Homo sapiens: one gene and its partners. The protein of the gene in region 3 purifies or fractionates together with the protein of the main gene of each other region. This does not show direct contact. Each region holds a gene or a part of one and is shown on either strand. Other genes may lie near its edges.

Region 1 (3,797 bases), on a different chromosome or scaffold from region 3:
TTGATATGATACCTCCAAACAGATTCTTAAAACATCAATATATTTCCAAAAACTTCAAAGAGAGATGATCTAGTGCCGATACTAAGCTGCCTGTCAGTTAACTGCTAACTTTAAAAAATCGTCATAAACATCTGTTGCCCAGATATCAAACTCAATTAAAGTATGATCATGCACTACACTGGTCTGCATTATTAATTATTTGCACTCTCTAAAAGAATATGCATTAACAGTTACAATTATTTGGCATAACATTTAGGATTAAGGTATTAGGATATCCTAACAGGAATTATTTAGGATAATGCCTTCAACTTTTAAGCTGAGCCCAAACAAAAGCTTATAAAGAGCATTTTCTGAATTACTAAATTGGTTGTACCTTAATGAAAGAGTATGGCAATAATCGGTTTTTACTTTTCCACTTGGTTTCCATTCTGTGTAAACAGCTGAATTAACATTCCGACATCCAAGAGATTCTGTTAGGCCCATCCAGCTTAAGTTCACCTGAATGTCCATGTTGTTGAACTCAAGTCAGTTCATAATTTATCCTACCTTTACAATTTAGGCAACTTTTCGACAACTGCTCTTACTATAAGGTTGAACGTGCCTCCTCTCTTCCCCAAAGTCATAAGGTGACTCAGTAAACTGAAAGATACATCACTGTTACATTAAAAATTCACAATGTCACAATTTTTCAAGAGACAACAATATGGACAATTGAAATGAAATTCCTAATATTTGAACTCTAAGTTGTTCCATTTTTGCTGCTTTGCATAATTCCAGTAAAGATCATTCATACCTGTCTTATGGGAATGGCAGGTATACCATAAGACCTCCCAAAACTGCCAGCACACACACAGGCAGTCACATACAGTGACCCTGTACCTCAATCTACCATTTGATTCTCCAGGATTACCTTAGAAAACTATGTGTATTTTCAAAAGCCACAAAGTTACTAAATGGTGTGAACAATAGAAACCAAACTATAGATTCAAATTAATTTACTTTGGTGTTCAGTTAGTACACAATTCAGAAGAGACAAGAAACAGACACTGGTGTTTTAAGTTTTAAGCAGTGGTCAAGATACTCAATTAGAAAGAAGATTAGGAAAATATGAACAAAGCACATCTAACCTATTTAAGCAAAACAGGGAAAGTGCCTATGAAGACATTTCTCAAGCCACCTTACAATAGGGTTCTGACTTTAAATTTTGTTTACCCACCTTCTTCCTTTCCACAAAAAGGCAAAGTATTGGGGTAGTTACATAAAATCCTGCTTAGTAAGTGGAAGTAAGTATTGTATTAAGAGTTCCATCAAGGTCTTGATTAAGAGGTTAGAAGAGGATATAGGAATGCACAATTTTACAGGTATTAATAAGGTTTTTTTAAAAATATTAATACATGTAAAACTAAAATATATACCTAAAACCTGCCTTAGAACAACCCCAAAGTCTGTTTCTCTCATACATTTAACTGATGAGCTTCATTGAAATCCCCCTCCCGGTAGTTTTATTACAAGGAACAATAGCAAAGGAATCCAATAGAGATATTAAAACAGTAAAAAGCATTTCTAAAGATCGTTTGAGACTCATATTTATATTATATGGACAAGACTTATTATCAGAACTTGAACACCTATAAAGTGCTTTAAAACCAATCATTCTTGTTACTGAATTTATATAAGTTTGGGAAGCTATAGATTCCATTAACCAATATGATTTCTCTTGAAATGTTCTTTGTATATCAGCAATATGCTGTCTTCACATGTAGAAACAGAAAGCTTTCAGAAAACAGGGAGAGAAAAAACATAGTCACCCATAAAACTTTAGAAAACCCAAACTTGCCCCTCTTCAATGTGGCAATAAACAATACTGCCATGACCTATTCAATGCCATACAGTTTACAAAATGTTCCTGATCATATTGTAAGGATCTCTTGGATAATAAGAATTCACTACTTAAGAACCATTCAGATACATCTTTCTTCCACTATGAAATCTCAAGACTGCCTTTGTATTATAGTACACAGTACCAGATGCAATAAGAATGGGGAAAGCAGATTTACCAAATATGTAATAAGTTACAGACCCTTATACCAATGAGAGCTAGAACAAGCGGATTTCTAACAAACTTTTTTAAAACTTGGGGAACTAATGGGAAATTTTTCAGAAAGACATTCTTTTCAACGTGAGGATAGAAAGATTTGTAACAAGGATAACTAGCTTCTCATGCATTGAATATGGGGGAAACACATAAAACTACTGTTTTTGGAGGAAAAATTATTAGAAAACTTTAACAAAAGATAGAATGTGTTATTTCAGACACTATAAGCTCAAGTGCAGTGGCTATATAATAAAGCAAGGTGCCTATTCCTGAGGAGAATGTACTCAGTAATGATGCCGAACAGTGAGTATTAAATCTAAGCAGTGCCAAAAAGGCAATGATTGGGAGTTCAGGTAATGTGTTACAGACAGACTTATGAGAAATTCCATTACTTAAAAATAATCTTGTCCCTATCATTAACCCTTTAATTTTGTTTTTCCTGATGTGCTAAAGTTCACTGGAAACCTCAGAACAGGTTTTATAAATTGGCCATGTCTTGTTAATAGACTGCAGTCTTCAAATTTACACAGAGCTGCAGGTCTCCTGGATTTTTTCAAGTGTCACTCATCTAACTGAACCTGATAGCTGAGAAATGCCATCAGGTACTTTACAGTCAGTTTAAAAAACATCCTCTACCTGGTATCTCTGCAGTGATTGTCTTGCTGCTCCCTGAAACCTCTTCATCATCATCTGATGAGCTCGTGCTTGAGTCACAAGTCAGGTCACTATCACTGGTACTACTGTCCTGCAGCAGGTTATATTTCTTCCTTGCAGCAGCCTCCCGTTTCTGCCTCAGTAGCCTGATCCTCTCCTTGTGCTTTTGGCTCCGATGACCTTTAACCTTGGCGACTCGGCCATTCTGTTTATCACTGGATTGCCGGTTTTTCTTGGCAGCCATAGTGGAAGTTTCACTTTCAGATCGGGACCGCCTAGACTTGCGCCCAACTGTGGCACCAGACACTCCTGAAGGGTCTCCTTCTACCGCCGTTTCTGCCTGAGAGGGTTCATTCTCTTCTGCGGAAGACAACGTATCTGAATCAGCCAGGTGACCACTAGAGGAAGGGGAAAGCATGCAGTGATTAGAGGAGTCACTCTCATAAACTCGGCCAGTTGTAGGCTTGTCACTCTCTGTGGATGCTAACTGAGACTCAGAAGAGTCCCTTCTCAGTTCCATCAACAAGCAGGGCATTGAAGAAATAACTGTAGAATCCGCTACACCATCTTTCTGAACTTGAGATTCCAGTTCTACAGATCCATCTTCCTCCTTGGCTGTCTCTTGTTCAGATGCTTTTGGTGGGGCTTCGGACTCAATGAGTTCTTCAACTTTTCCCACTGCCTCCTCCATCTTCATTTCAGAATTTCAAGTTAAATCATGGAGTAGAGTCTAGGAAATGATATCAAAGATGCAACAGGAAAGCAACCTGTACAAAAACACACAAAGTCAATAAACAGAATGCCAGATTATTTAGTCAACACAACATGCCTACCTTTCTAAGTGGGTGGGGCAAAACTTACTATTACACAGGCCTTTAAAATATATATATATTATTATCTGCTTGTTTGATCAACAGTCAAATTCAAAGGACTTAATACGGTCAAAATCTAAGCATACTGAGCTACTAAAAATGCCATAATATTAATCCTCTAACTTGAAAGGCCAACATGTAATGAACATTTTCAAGTTTACAATTTTATTTAAAGT
Region 2 (3,797 bases), on a different chromosome or scaffold from region 3:
AAGGCTGGCAAGGGGATTGGGGGCTGCTCTCAGGAACACGGAGAGGCCGCATTAGGCAGGCAGGGAAGTGCTGGGAAGACTACGTGCTCCTCTCCCACCAGGGACCCTGGCGGCCCTCCTGCTAGTTCTCCTCCTGGTGGAGGACACTGGGGGATGCCGAACAAGAGGCTAAGCCTGCGGCCCAGGCCCTGCTGAGACCACACCATGGCTAGCAAGTAGAGGGACAGCAGCATATCCCCTCAATTCTGCCTGCACGGTAGCTGAGCCAGACGTCCCCACACCCACCCCATTATCAAGGAAGATCTGCTCTGCAAATTGAATGGGGCGTTAAGACCTTAAGGCTCTCCAAGTCCCTCTGGTACTTCTCACGCAGTGTGGCCGCGTCGCCCTCCAGGTCCTTGTGTCCCAGCTCCTCCCGCATGACATCCATCTGGGCCTCCAGCTCCTGGATGCGCTCCCTCAGCCCCGTCATGGAGTCAGCCTCTCCCTGGGTGGCCTGCCAGTTGGGGGCAGGGGCTGGCAGGGCCTTGGGGTGTGGCCCCTGGTGGAGGCAGAGGGTGTCCTGAAGGCACCTCAGGCTCTGCGAGTAGTGCTCCTGCAGGGTCCTCAGCTCCTCCTCGTGGATCGTCTGCAGCTCCCGGACCTTGAGCTGGAACCTGTCCTCCAGGGTCTGTATCTGCTCACCATGATGCCTCTCCATGTCCTGCCTGTCTCTGACCGAGGCATCCAGCTGGCTCAGGACCCGGCTGCGCTCAGCCTGCAGTGTGCTCTCGGTCCTGGTCAGCTGCTCCACCACACACCGAATCTCCTCCTCATACCTGCCCCGCAGGGTGAACATGCTCATGCTGTGCTTGCTCTCTGCATCCTCCAGACACTGCTGCTGATGGTCTAGCTGGGCGGCCTTGGCCTTGAGCTCTGCATTCTCCCTTTCAACAATGGCGATCACATCCAGGTACTCGCTCTTCTGCTTGCGGAGAAGCTCCTCATACTCCTCCCTCAGGGCCCGGGCTGCCTGTGCCTGCTCTGAGCAGGAGGGCTCCCGGGTTTGCCAGGACTCCTTGCAGAGCTGGAGCTCCTTCTCATATTCTAGCCGGATTCTGCAGGACGCATAGCAAACCTGGGCCTGAATAATGGCATCCTGAACCAACAATGAAGAATACTGACCGAGGCCTCCCAAACAAGTGTTATACGAGAGACTCTGGGACACCTGGAGAAGCTTCTGGCAATCTCTCAGCGATTCCACAGGTGGCAGAGATGGTAAGGCAGCCGCTATCTCCTCTAAGAGGCTGGCCTTCTCCTTCAGCTGCTGGGCAAGCTCCTCCTGAATAGCAACAAAGGCCCCAGGGCTCTGGTCAGACACATCGAAGGGCTCCTGAGAGCTGTCTGAGTCTCGGCCCAGGACTTCTCCTAAGGGGCTCAGGTCCCAGGACAGCTGAACACCATCTTCATGGCCCGCTGGAAGCCTGAGGGCTTCCAAGACCTGCTGCATCACTCTTTCAAAGTCTGGGGTTTGGTAGGCTCCCAGGATTTCCCTCAGCAGGCATTTGTGCTGCCGCAGGGCCGTCTGGGTGCCCCGCAGGGTCTCCTGGATGCTCTGTAGCCTGCGGTGGAACGACTCCCTCACTGACTGTGTGGCAAAGCTGAGCTCTGCCCTGACCCATGTGGCATTGGCCAGGATGGGGGCCAGGCCCTGTGGGATGCTTTGCTGCCCGTCTCCTGAGGCACCGACTGCCTCTCCTCCCAGTGTCCCCAAGTGCTTCCTCAGAGACTCAACCTGGCTCCAGAACTCACCATCCACTAGGACCTTCCTGGCCCAGGTGTCTACGGGGGCCCCAGCAGATTCCATCGGTGGCTGTCCTGACCAAGAAATCTCATGGAGCATTCGGGAGACATCTGATGTTGTGTTCTTCAGGGAATCTGCTATCTGGCTGATCAGCGAGGCCTCCAGAGCAATCTGGTCAGAAAGAAGCCTCACCTGCTCCTGCTCTGTCAACTCAGACTGGGAGCACTGCTGCAGGGAGGCAGGCTTCCCATTCTCCTCGGTGCCACCTGTCTCCAGCTGTGCACGGGCCCCGCCATGGGCTGGGGCCGGCCAGTGCTGCAGGGCTTGGATGGCGCTGACGAGTGCACTCTCCACACTGGCCAGGGAGGCTGCGCGTGCGTCCTGCTCATCCTCCTGGCTGGCCCTAGGCAGAGATCTCAGTTGTTCTCGGCAATTTTCCAGGCACATCAGGGCCTGACTATTCTTGACCTGGAAGTCCCCAAGCTCTCCAACATGCCCTTCAACCCTCCTGGCCCTCTCCTGCCTCTCCTGCTCCAGCTGGGAGGCCAGTGCGCCAACCTGGAGCAGGCTGGCGCGGAGCTGCTCACGCAGCTGGGCCTCGGTGCCCGCCCACTGGTGGTGCAGTGCGAGCAGTGCCTCACGGCTCTGACCCTGCTGGCTCTCCAGCCTCACGGTCACGTCTTTGAGCTTTTCCTCTGTGACGTAGAGCTTGGTCTCCAGGGAGTGGATGATGGAGAGGTACGTGTCAGAGTCGCCAGTTGCAGGCAGTACACTGGGTGCAGGCTCTGAGGACATGCTTTCTTCCGAGGGTGACCGGTCCTGGCTGGTGTCGGAAGATGTGCTGCTGGTCCAGGTCTTCTCAGACCCTTCGGGGTGAATGTATCTTTGGCACTGGATTGTGGAGAACCGGATTCTTTGCCTTTTAACACCAGGTGCCCCTTGGTCGAGTTTGGCTGTGCCCTGCTGATGGCCCTCCCTGTCAAGCACTTCCACTGACTTTGGGGGCACCATGCTGTCTTCCCTACTGGGGCTGCCATCACCGTACTCTTCCCCCGGAGGAGCCCCCAGGTCCTCGTCCTCATCCTCGAGCCTTGTGTGTGGGAGGCCTAGAGGTGCCCTAGTGGCTTGGACTGGTTGGCCTGGGAGCAAAGTGCCATCCCTTTCTGTCTCTTCAGGGGTACTCCGTGGCTCTTCCATGTCCTTTGGAGATTCACTTGCAAATTTCCTTAAAATCTCTTCTTTTGCCTGGAGCTTAATTTCTGTTTCCTCTAAGCTGCTCCCCAAGGCAACCATTTTAACCAAAGCCTCATTGAGGTCCTGCTCCTTCTTCTCCAGAACCTTCTCATGTGCTTCCTTAATGCGCTCCAGCTCTTCCTCCTTCTCTCTCAGCAGAGTGTGCATGCTCTGCAGCTGGCTGGAGACCCTCTGGTAGGAGTGCTCCAGGCTCTGGTTGTCAGCCTCTCTTCTCCTCAGCTTTTCCCGGAGCTCAGCCACATCCTCGTCGGACGTGGCCACGCGCTCTGTCAGCTCCTGGAACCGCTGTCTGAGGAGGTCCCGCTCGTCACAGAGGCTCTGCACGTGCTCTGCGAGCCTGCGCACGCTGGCCTCTCGTGCCTCCAGCTGCTCCTCCAGCTGGTGCACCTGCTCACTGCCCTCGAAAGTGGCGCTCAGCTTCTCCTTCTGCAGGGTCTCCACCTGCTGTGCCTGACCCTGCAGCTGGTCCTCATAGGCGCTGGCCTTGTCTTCCACTTCCTTTAGGTTCTGCAGCAATGCCTGCTTCTCCTTCTCACAGCTCTCCAGCAGCAGCTCATAGTTTCTCTGCAGCTTCTCCTCCATCAGCCGCTGCGCCTGCTCACTGGCGCCCAGTTGCTGGCTGAGGTCGGCAATGCGCTCCTGCAGCCTCTGGACCTCCTTCTGCCGGTCCCGCTGCAGCGCCTGCTGTGTCTCCAGGCCCCGTAGCTCCTGCGTCTTCTCCAGCAGCAGGGCCTCAGCACTCTTGAGCTTCTGCTCGCTA
Region 3 (3,797 bases):
ATAGGCGTGAGCCACCGTGCCTGGCCTGGGCCTTTCTTCTTCTAACTGTTACACTGGGTGCTTCCCTCCTGACTTCCAGCTCCTCTCCTGACTTCCAGCTCCTCTCCTAACAGCAACAGAAGCACACAGGGTTGGATACTGCCCTTGGCTCCCACTGCCATCAGGTGCTCTGTTAAGTCATATGATCACTGAATTTTAAGTGTCTTATCTTTCACCTGGGTCATGTAGGTTTTCTCTTCCTGCAATAAGAGCTTCTTTTAAACAAGACACCGAAGCAGAGGTCAGCCTAGACGGCCTCCGGCTTCAGCTCTTGGTCTTGCTATGACATCAGGAATTCATCTGTCTGTGCCTCCGGCTTCAGCTCTTGGTCCTGCTGTGACGTCAGGAGTTCGTCTGTCTGTGCCAAATGATAGGGACAAAAAAGATGGCAGACTGGTTTTGTTTTGGTTATGCAATTTTTCTCATAACCATAAACGTTAAAAAAAATTTCCAAGTGGATTTAAAAAAATGTATCTTTTATTTTTGAGACAGGGTCTTGCTCTGTCATCCAAGCAGGTCTTGAACTCCTGGCCTCAAGTGATCCTCCTGCCTCGGCCTTCCAAAGCACTGGGATTACAGATGTGAGTCACCACATCTGGCCCCAAAAATGTATCTTTTGTTGTTTTCCATGCCGATTTTGTTGAAGCCAGCTCTCTCATCTTTTCCTTGGAGAAGTATCCAAGGCAGTCAGTTTGCATGGCCCCCATTTCGTGTGTGAACCAATATCTGATCTCACTAACACCAGCATGTGGGGCGAGCCCTGATCTCACTAACACCAGCACGCGGGGCGAGCCCTGATCTCACTAACTCCAGCACGCGGGGCGAGCCCTGATCTCACTAACTCCAGCACGCGGGGTGAGCCCTGATCTCACTAACACCAGCACGCGGGGCGAGCCCTGATCTCACTAACACCAGCACGCGGGGCGAGCCGTGATCTCACTAACACCAGCACGCGGGGCGAGCCCTGATCTCACTAACTCCAGCACGCGGGGCGAGCCCTGATCTCACTAACACCAGCACGCGGGGCGAGCCCTGATCTCACTAACACCAGCACGCGGGGCGAGCCGTGATCTCACTAACACCAGCACGCGGGGCGAGCCCTGATCTCACTAACACCAGCACGCGGGGTGAGCCCTGATCTCAAGAACACCAGCACGCGGGGTGAGCCCTGATCTCACTAACACCAGCACGCGGGGCGAGCCCTGATCTCACTAACTCTAGCACGCGGGGAGAGCCCTGATCTCACTAACACCAGCACGCGGGGCGAGCCGTGATCTCACTAACACCAGCACGCGGGGCGAGCCCTGATCTCACTAACACCAGCACGCGGGGCGAGCCCTGATCTCAAGAACACCAGCACGCGGGGCGAGCCCTGATCTCACTAACACCAGCACGCGGGGCGAGCCCTGATCTCACTAACTCTAGCACGCGGGGAGAGCCCTGATCTCACTAACACCAGCACGCGGGGTGAGCCGTGATCTCACTAACACCAGCACGCGGGGCGAGCCCTGATCTCACTAACTCCAGCACGTGGGGCGAGCCCTGATCTCACTAACACCAGCACGCGGGGTGAGCTCTGATCTCACTAACACTAGACGCGGGGCGAGCCCTGATCTCAAGAACACCAGCACGCGGGGCGAGCCCTGATCTCACTAACTCCAGCACGTGGGGCGAGCCCTGATCTCACTAACACCAGCACGCGGGGTGAGCTCTGATCTCACTAACACTAGACGCGGGGTGAGCCCTGATCTCAAGAACACCAGCACGCGGGGCGAGCTCTGATCTCACTAACACCAGACACGGGGCGAGCTGACACGGTCACACAGTTCGTAGGATCCAGCAGTGTGCTTACGACGTCACGTATTACGGTTCTTGTTCTTGGCAACCCTGTGGGGTTAAGCACTGTCAGCATCGCCATTTCACACCTGGGAAAACTGAGGCAAAGGCCCCACAGTTCCAGAGTGAGGGTCAAGTCCACAGCCCCTGACTTGAGAGCTATGCTCTTGACCCACTACGTGCGTCCTAGAAATCAAAGACATCAGATTAAAGTGTGAGTTTAGGATCAGGAACCCACCTGCCTGCTGCTAGAGAGGCTGAGGTGGTCCTGCCAGCCATGCGCTGCTGCAGGCGTCTCTGTGGGCATGACCTGGGGCTGGCATTTGGTGAGATGTCAATCCACACCTGGGAATCCGTCCTATTGGCCCTAAATATGGAAAAGATATTTATTGTGGCATTATTTATAATAACCTAGGTTGGAAACAGCCCACATGCCCATGCTGGGAAGTGGATAAGTCACCTGTGCCTTTTCGATTCAACTGGTCATTGTGCAGGCATTAAAAGTAATGCTTCCTTCCTGGCCAACATGGTGAAACCCCGTCTCTACTAAAAATACAAAAATTAGCTGGGCGTGGTGGTGCGTGCCTGAAATCCCAGCTACTCGGGATGCTGAAGCAGGGGAATCGCTTGACCGCGGGAGGTGGAGGTTGTGGTGAGCTGAGATCGTGCCACTGCACTCCAGCCTGGCAACAGAATGAGACTCTGTCTCAAAAAAAAAAAAAAAAAAAAAGTAACGCTCCCTATTGTCAGTAACGGGGAAAAGCAACGATCATACTATCATAAGTAAAATCAAACCAAATGCAGACACCACCAGGGAATGCGTGCCCGTCTCCTGGGCCATCCTAGACAGCCGTGTCCACACTTGCCACCCTCTGTGGCACATCCCGACAGACAGCAGAGGATGCCTGCTCTGAGCAGCTCCCTGTCCCGCCCCCTGGTTTCTTTCTTGTGTCCGAGTTCCTGACTCCTGACGCCGGCTCTTCCCTGCCAACAGCTAATTCTGAAGGACACTAAGACACAGAGAGCGTGTGCAAGGACTGGGAGTTGTGTTAGTTCATTGTGTGTTACTATAAAGGAACACCCGAGGCTGGGTAAGTTTTTGTAACGAGGTTTACGTGGCTGGCGGTTCTGCAGGCTGCACAGGTATCTGCTTGGCTTCTGGTGAGGCTGCAGGGAGGGAGCAAGAGACGGGAGGAGGCACCAGGCTCTTTAATGCAGGAGTCCCTGACCTCAAGACGGGTCCATGGCCTGTTAGAAGTGGGTCACACAGCAGGAGGTGGGTGGCAGGCGAGTGAGCGTTACCGCCTAAGCTCCGCCTCCTGTCAGATCAGCGGTGGCATTAGATTCTCACTGGACCACGAACCCCACCGTGAACTGCATGCGAGGGATCTAGGTTGCACGCTCCTTATGAGAATCAAATGCCTGATGATCTGAGGTGGGACAGTTTCATACTCAAACCATCCACACCACTCCCTGTCCACGGAAAAAACTGGTCCCAGGTGCCAAGAAGGTTGGGGACCACTGCTTTAAACAACAAGCTCTCCAGTGAACCTCAAGAGTGAGAGCTCACTCATTACTGTGAGGAGGGCACCAAGCCATTCTCGAGGGATCTGTCCCCGTGACCCGAATACCTCCTGCCAGGCCCCTTCCCACACTGGGGATCACATTTCCACATAAGATCTGGAGGGGACAGACGTCCAAACTATACCAGGAGCTCGAATGCACCCTTCACCTAGGACAGGATCGGCAAGCAAATCCGGCCCACCTCCTACGTTTGTAAATAAAGTTTTATTGGCACAGCCACGCTCGTTCATTCATATGCCATTGACATCTGCTGTTGCCCTACACAGCAGGGTGGGGACCTGCTCTTCACGGGAGAGCTAGTTGTTTAAAGCAGTGGTCCCCAACCTTCTGTGGTCCCC
Region 4 (3,797 bases), on a different chromosome or scaffold from region 3:
AACTAAGGCCTTCCCCGCCTCCTGGCCCGCATGAGAGAACCCGGAGGTCTCCCTGACCGATGGGAGCTAACCTTTTTCACCTTGCTAACCACCAGCCACTGATTGGAAATACGGTGACTATTAACTCACTTAGATACTATAACCCTGTGAGGTGGGTGCCCTTGCGGCCCCCCTCTCACACATGGGGGAGCTGAGGCACAGGGTGACTGGTAACTGAGCAGGTGGTTTCCTCATAGGTCATGGGATGCAGCCGGGTTAAGAAAGGAAACCAGGCCGGGCATGGTGGCTCATGCCTGTAATCCCAGTACTTTGGGAGGCCGAAGCAGGCAGATCATGATGTCAGGAGATCGAGACCATCCTGGCTAACGCGGTGAAACCCCGTCTCTACTAAAAATATGAAAAATTAGCTGGGCGTGGTGGCAGGCGCCTGTAGTCCCAGCTACTCAGGAGGCTGAGGCAGGAGAATGGCGTGAACCAGGGGAGGCGGAGCTTGCAGTGAACTGAGATCGCGCCACTGCACTCCAGCCTGGGCAACAGAGCGAGATTCCATCTCAAAAGAAAAAAAAAAGAAAGAAAGAAAGGAAACCAGATGGGCGCAGTGGCTCCCGTCTGTAGTACCAGCACTTTGGGAGGTGGAGGCGGAGATGGGCGGATCACTTGAGGTCAAGAGTTTGAGACCAGCCTGGGCAACATGGTGAAACCCTGTCTCTACTAAAAATACAAAAATTAGCAGGAGGCGGAGGTCGCAGTGAGCAGAGATCACGCCATTGCATTTCAGTCTGGGTGATGGAGTGAGACTGTGTCTCAAAAACAAAACAAAACAAAAACAAAAAACAAGGAAGGGAAATTGCAGGGAGAACGCTGTCGTTCTCTGGCCCTGGCAGTGGGGAGAGGATTTTAAGGGGTGGCCTTCAGGGCTCCTCAGAGAGGAGGGAAGGGCATAGGGGAGACAGAGAGGAGCAAGAATGGGACAGAAGAAGGGGAAGACAGGCAGGAGAAGAAGAAGGAGAGATCTAGAGAGGAAGGAGAGAGAGCGAGTTTGGAGGAAGAACACCAGGACACAGGGGCCGTCTGTTCTCGGCTTTGCCTGAAGATGAATGTGACTGCCATGCTAACTTGGCCAACACCCTGCCCCACCCCCCCAAACCCAGGCACCCAGCCCAGCCACGGTCCCCAGGGCCACCAAGCTGGAGCCAGGGCAGGAGGTGTAGAGTTGGGTGTGCGTCCAGACACAACACAGACCCCACTGCCCTGCTTGACCCTTGGCTGTCATTCTGTGTCCCATTCTGGGACCTTGGGGGTGGGGAAGTGGGGTGAGAATGCCTGGCCAGAGAGGGTGACAGCGAAGTCCAACCCTGAAGGAGTCTTCTCCAGAGGAGGGGAACCCATCCTTTGATACCCCCTTGAGGGAGCGAGAGCAAGGAAGAGAGCTAAGACCTTAGAGGTGCTTCTTAAAGGACAAGGAGACTCAGGGACTGCAAAAGCATGACAGGGACTCTTGGGGCCCTTTTTAAGAGTGGACACAGCAGAAGGAGAGATAGGCTCCCCTCTGAGCTAGGTGAGAGGGGGGTTCTCTAAAGGGAACCACATGATATAGCTAAGGGAACAGAGTGGGAGGAGGATGCTCAAGGTGCGGGGGGTGGGGTGGGGGGGCGGCGCGGGGACAGAGCCTGCAGGAATCTGAATTTTCGACCTTATGGGGGTGGGGCAGCAAGGGCCTCCCAAACCCAAACCGAGAGGTTTTCACTGAATTTTTTGTATTTTGGGTGTTGCCCAGTGGCTCTTTCCTGAGGCTCAGACACATTTTTGTCATTCCTGAGTCTGGGCCTCTGCTTTGCGGCCTGGACAGACAGACAGACAGGGTGGCTTGGACAGCCAGGGGAGGGGAAGGGTCTCCGCTTCCATTCTGAGTCAATATTGATGCAGCAGGACATTAGCCTGACCCGTGACCTCCCCCACCAGCTTTTCCTTTCCCCACAAATAAAAGCCAGACCCCCAGAAGGCCTCCAGAGGTCACCATATCACTCACCAGGCATTTCTAAGCCTCCTCTCCTTCTCCCCCCACCCCAGCCACACACACAGCTTATGCTCACCAGAGTAAAAGCTCCAAGTTCTTGACTCACTCCTTACATCTTTCTCCAGTTCTTAGGCTCCTGGTCAGGAGGAAGTTCTGCCAGAAGTCTAACCTCCCTCCTTCCTTCTGAAATACCTCCTTTCTCCCTCTTAGCCCACAAAGGGTATCAAGTTCCTTTCTTCCAGAAACATTCTCTCCAAAACCCATTCCCCAAATTAGTGGAGGGGGAAGAAGAAAGAGGAAGTCGGAGGAAAGTGGAGAGGAAACTTTTGGTGCTGAACTGGACACTGGGTCTGGCCAGGAAGGGGGAAAAATAGCCAAAACAGAGGGGAGGGAGCCAGGGGGTGAGTGGGAAAGCCCAGAGAGACTCTTGCTCCCAAGAAGCTTTTGGGATACCAAGAGGCCTGGATGGGGGTAAATGGAGACAGGCAGAGAAAAATAAGACAAGTGACAGAGACGCAGAAAGCAGGGCAGAGAATGTCACAAAGGTTCGGCAGTAAGAGATGAACTGAGAGGGTGAGAGACAGAGAGGTTCTAAAAAGCCAAGACAGCGCACACTAATGACAGACAGACAGAAAGACAGACAGACAGCCAGAAAAGCCAGGAAGGGGGCTCAGTCCAGAGATTGCCAAGGGGATGACACAGTTGTCCTGGGATGAACCCAGAGAATGACTACCCCGCTGAGCCTAGAGTAGGGTGGGAGCAAGATCTGTCCTATCTTGGAGAGACAGAGTCTCGGCCCTAGGCAGTGCCTGACTCAAGGGAGACCCAGAATAGGGACCACTACCACCCCTGGAGTCAGGAGGGTAGAAAGGAGGGAGGAAAATGGAGCTCTTCAGCCAGGGAAGCTAAGGCCTGGTGGGAGAGGGAGAGGCTTTCATCTCCCCTAGGGGAGCAAGAGGGACAACTCTCCACATATACCCCTCACCTCTTTCCCAGGGAGGGTTTATATTGGTGCCTGAGGCCATTGCACCGGAAACACTCCAAAGCCAACTGCTTCCTTCTCCAAACAATGCAGGATCCTGCTAACCAGGCTGAAATCTGGGACAGAAGAGGGAGGCAGGTTCTCTATCGCTCATACCCAGCACTACCAAGTCAGGGGCCTTCCTGCAGTACCATTCAGCTGCACCCAGATGCCCCAAGAGCAATGAGCCCACACGCAGAGCTGGAGGACCTGAAAGGTAAAGAGTCTGAGGAGTGAGGAGGACCCTGAGAAGAGAGTACTGGGCGGGAATAAACCTAGGCTTGGGGGTTCTGATGTGCAAGGGCTCACACTGCAGCAGGAGGAAAGAGAGATAGACTTGAGTAAGGAAGGGCTTCCCAAAAGGTAAGGAAGGGGTTTTGAAGAATGGGGGCATCTGGACAGGAACTGACTCTGGCCAGGACCTGGGCTGTCATCCTTTGGGAGGCTCAGTGGTGGAAGGGTGGTTGAGAAAATGAAGAGAGGAGAGAGAACAAGATCAGAAGAAAAAGATGTCTAGTGAAGCAGCCCTAAACATCAAAATATCCCTCCAACCCCAAAATGAATTTCTTACACATTCTTGCTTTAAAAGACAACGAGGCAAAGGGAGACGTTTAGGATGTGAGTCTGATCAGGGAGAAAGGAGTTTAGAACTTTCTCTCAGGGATCCAGGAAGCTAACACCCCAGCTTCATAACTCACTTCCACTGTACCTACTCTAGTAACTGGTAATATGCCGGCTCAAGGGGGTGTGTGGAGGAAG

What was found. Proteins that work in one complex are often made in the same cells at the same time.
Region 1: the proteins of ZFP41 (region 3) and ARK2N purify together in Homo sapiens (affinity purification with mass spectrometry; 3 studies listed by BioGRID and IntAct, with this or other methods). This does not show direct contact.
Region 2: the proteins of ZFP41 (region 3) and MPRIP purify together in Homo sapiens (affinity purification with mass spectrometry; 3 studies listed by BioGRID and IntAct, with this or other methods). This does not show direct contact.
Region 4: the proteins of ZFP41 (region 3) and LRP1 purify together in Homo sapiens (affinity purification with mass spectrometry; 3 studies listed by BioGRID and IntAct, with this or other methods). This does not show direct contact.

Annotation. Positions count from the first base shown.
Region 1 is NC_000018.10:46,215,530-46,219,326, reverse strand, and holds part of ARK2N (protein ARK2N), read right to left. Parts: intron 3,517-3,797; 5' UTR 3,447-3,516; coding exon 2,732-3,446; intron 1-2,731. UniProt on the Homo sapiens protein: AMPK substrate important for exercise capacity and skeletal muscle function.
Region 2 is NC_000017.11:17,164,453-17,168,249, reverse strand, and holds part of MPRIP (myosin phosphatase Rho-interacting protein), read right to left. Parts: coding exon 335-3,797; intron 1-334. UniProt on the Homo sapiens protein: Targets myosin phosphatase to the actin cytoskeleton. Required for the regulation of the actin cytoskeleton by RhoA and ROCK1.
Region 3 is NC_000008.11:143,253,439-143,257,235, reverse strand, and holds part of ZFP41 (zinc finger protein 41 homolog), read right to left. Parts: exon of another isoform or gene 3,645-3,797; intron 1-3,644. UniProt on the Homo sapiens protein: A putative DNA-binding regulatory protein associated with meiosis in spermatogenesis.
Region 4 is NC_000012.12:57,131,479-57,135,275, reverse strand, and holds part of LRP1 (prolow-density lipoprotein receptor-related protein 1 preproprotein), read right to left. Parts: intron 1-3,797. UniProt on the Homo sapiens protein: Endocytic receptor involved in endocytosis and in phagocytosis of apoptotic cells. Required for early embryonic development. Involved in cellular lipid homeostasis.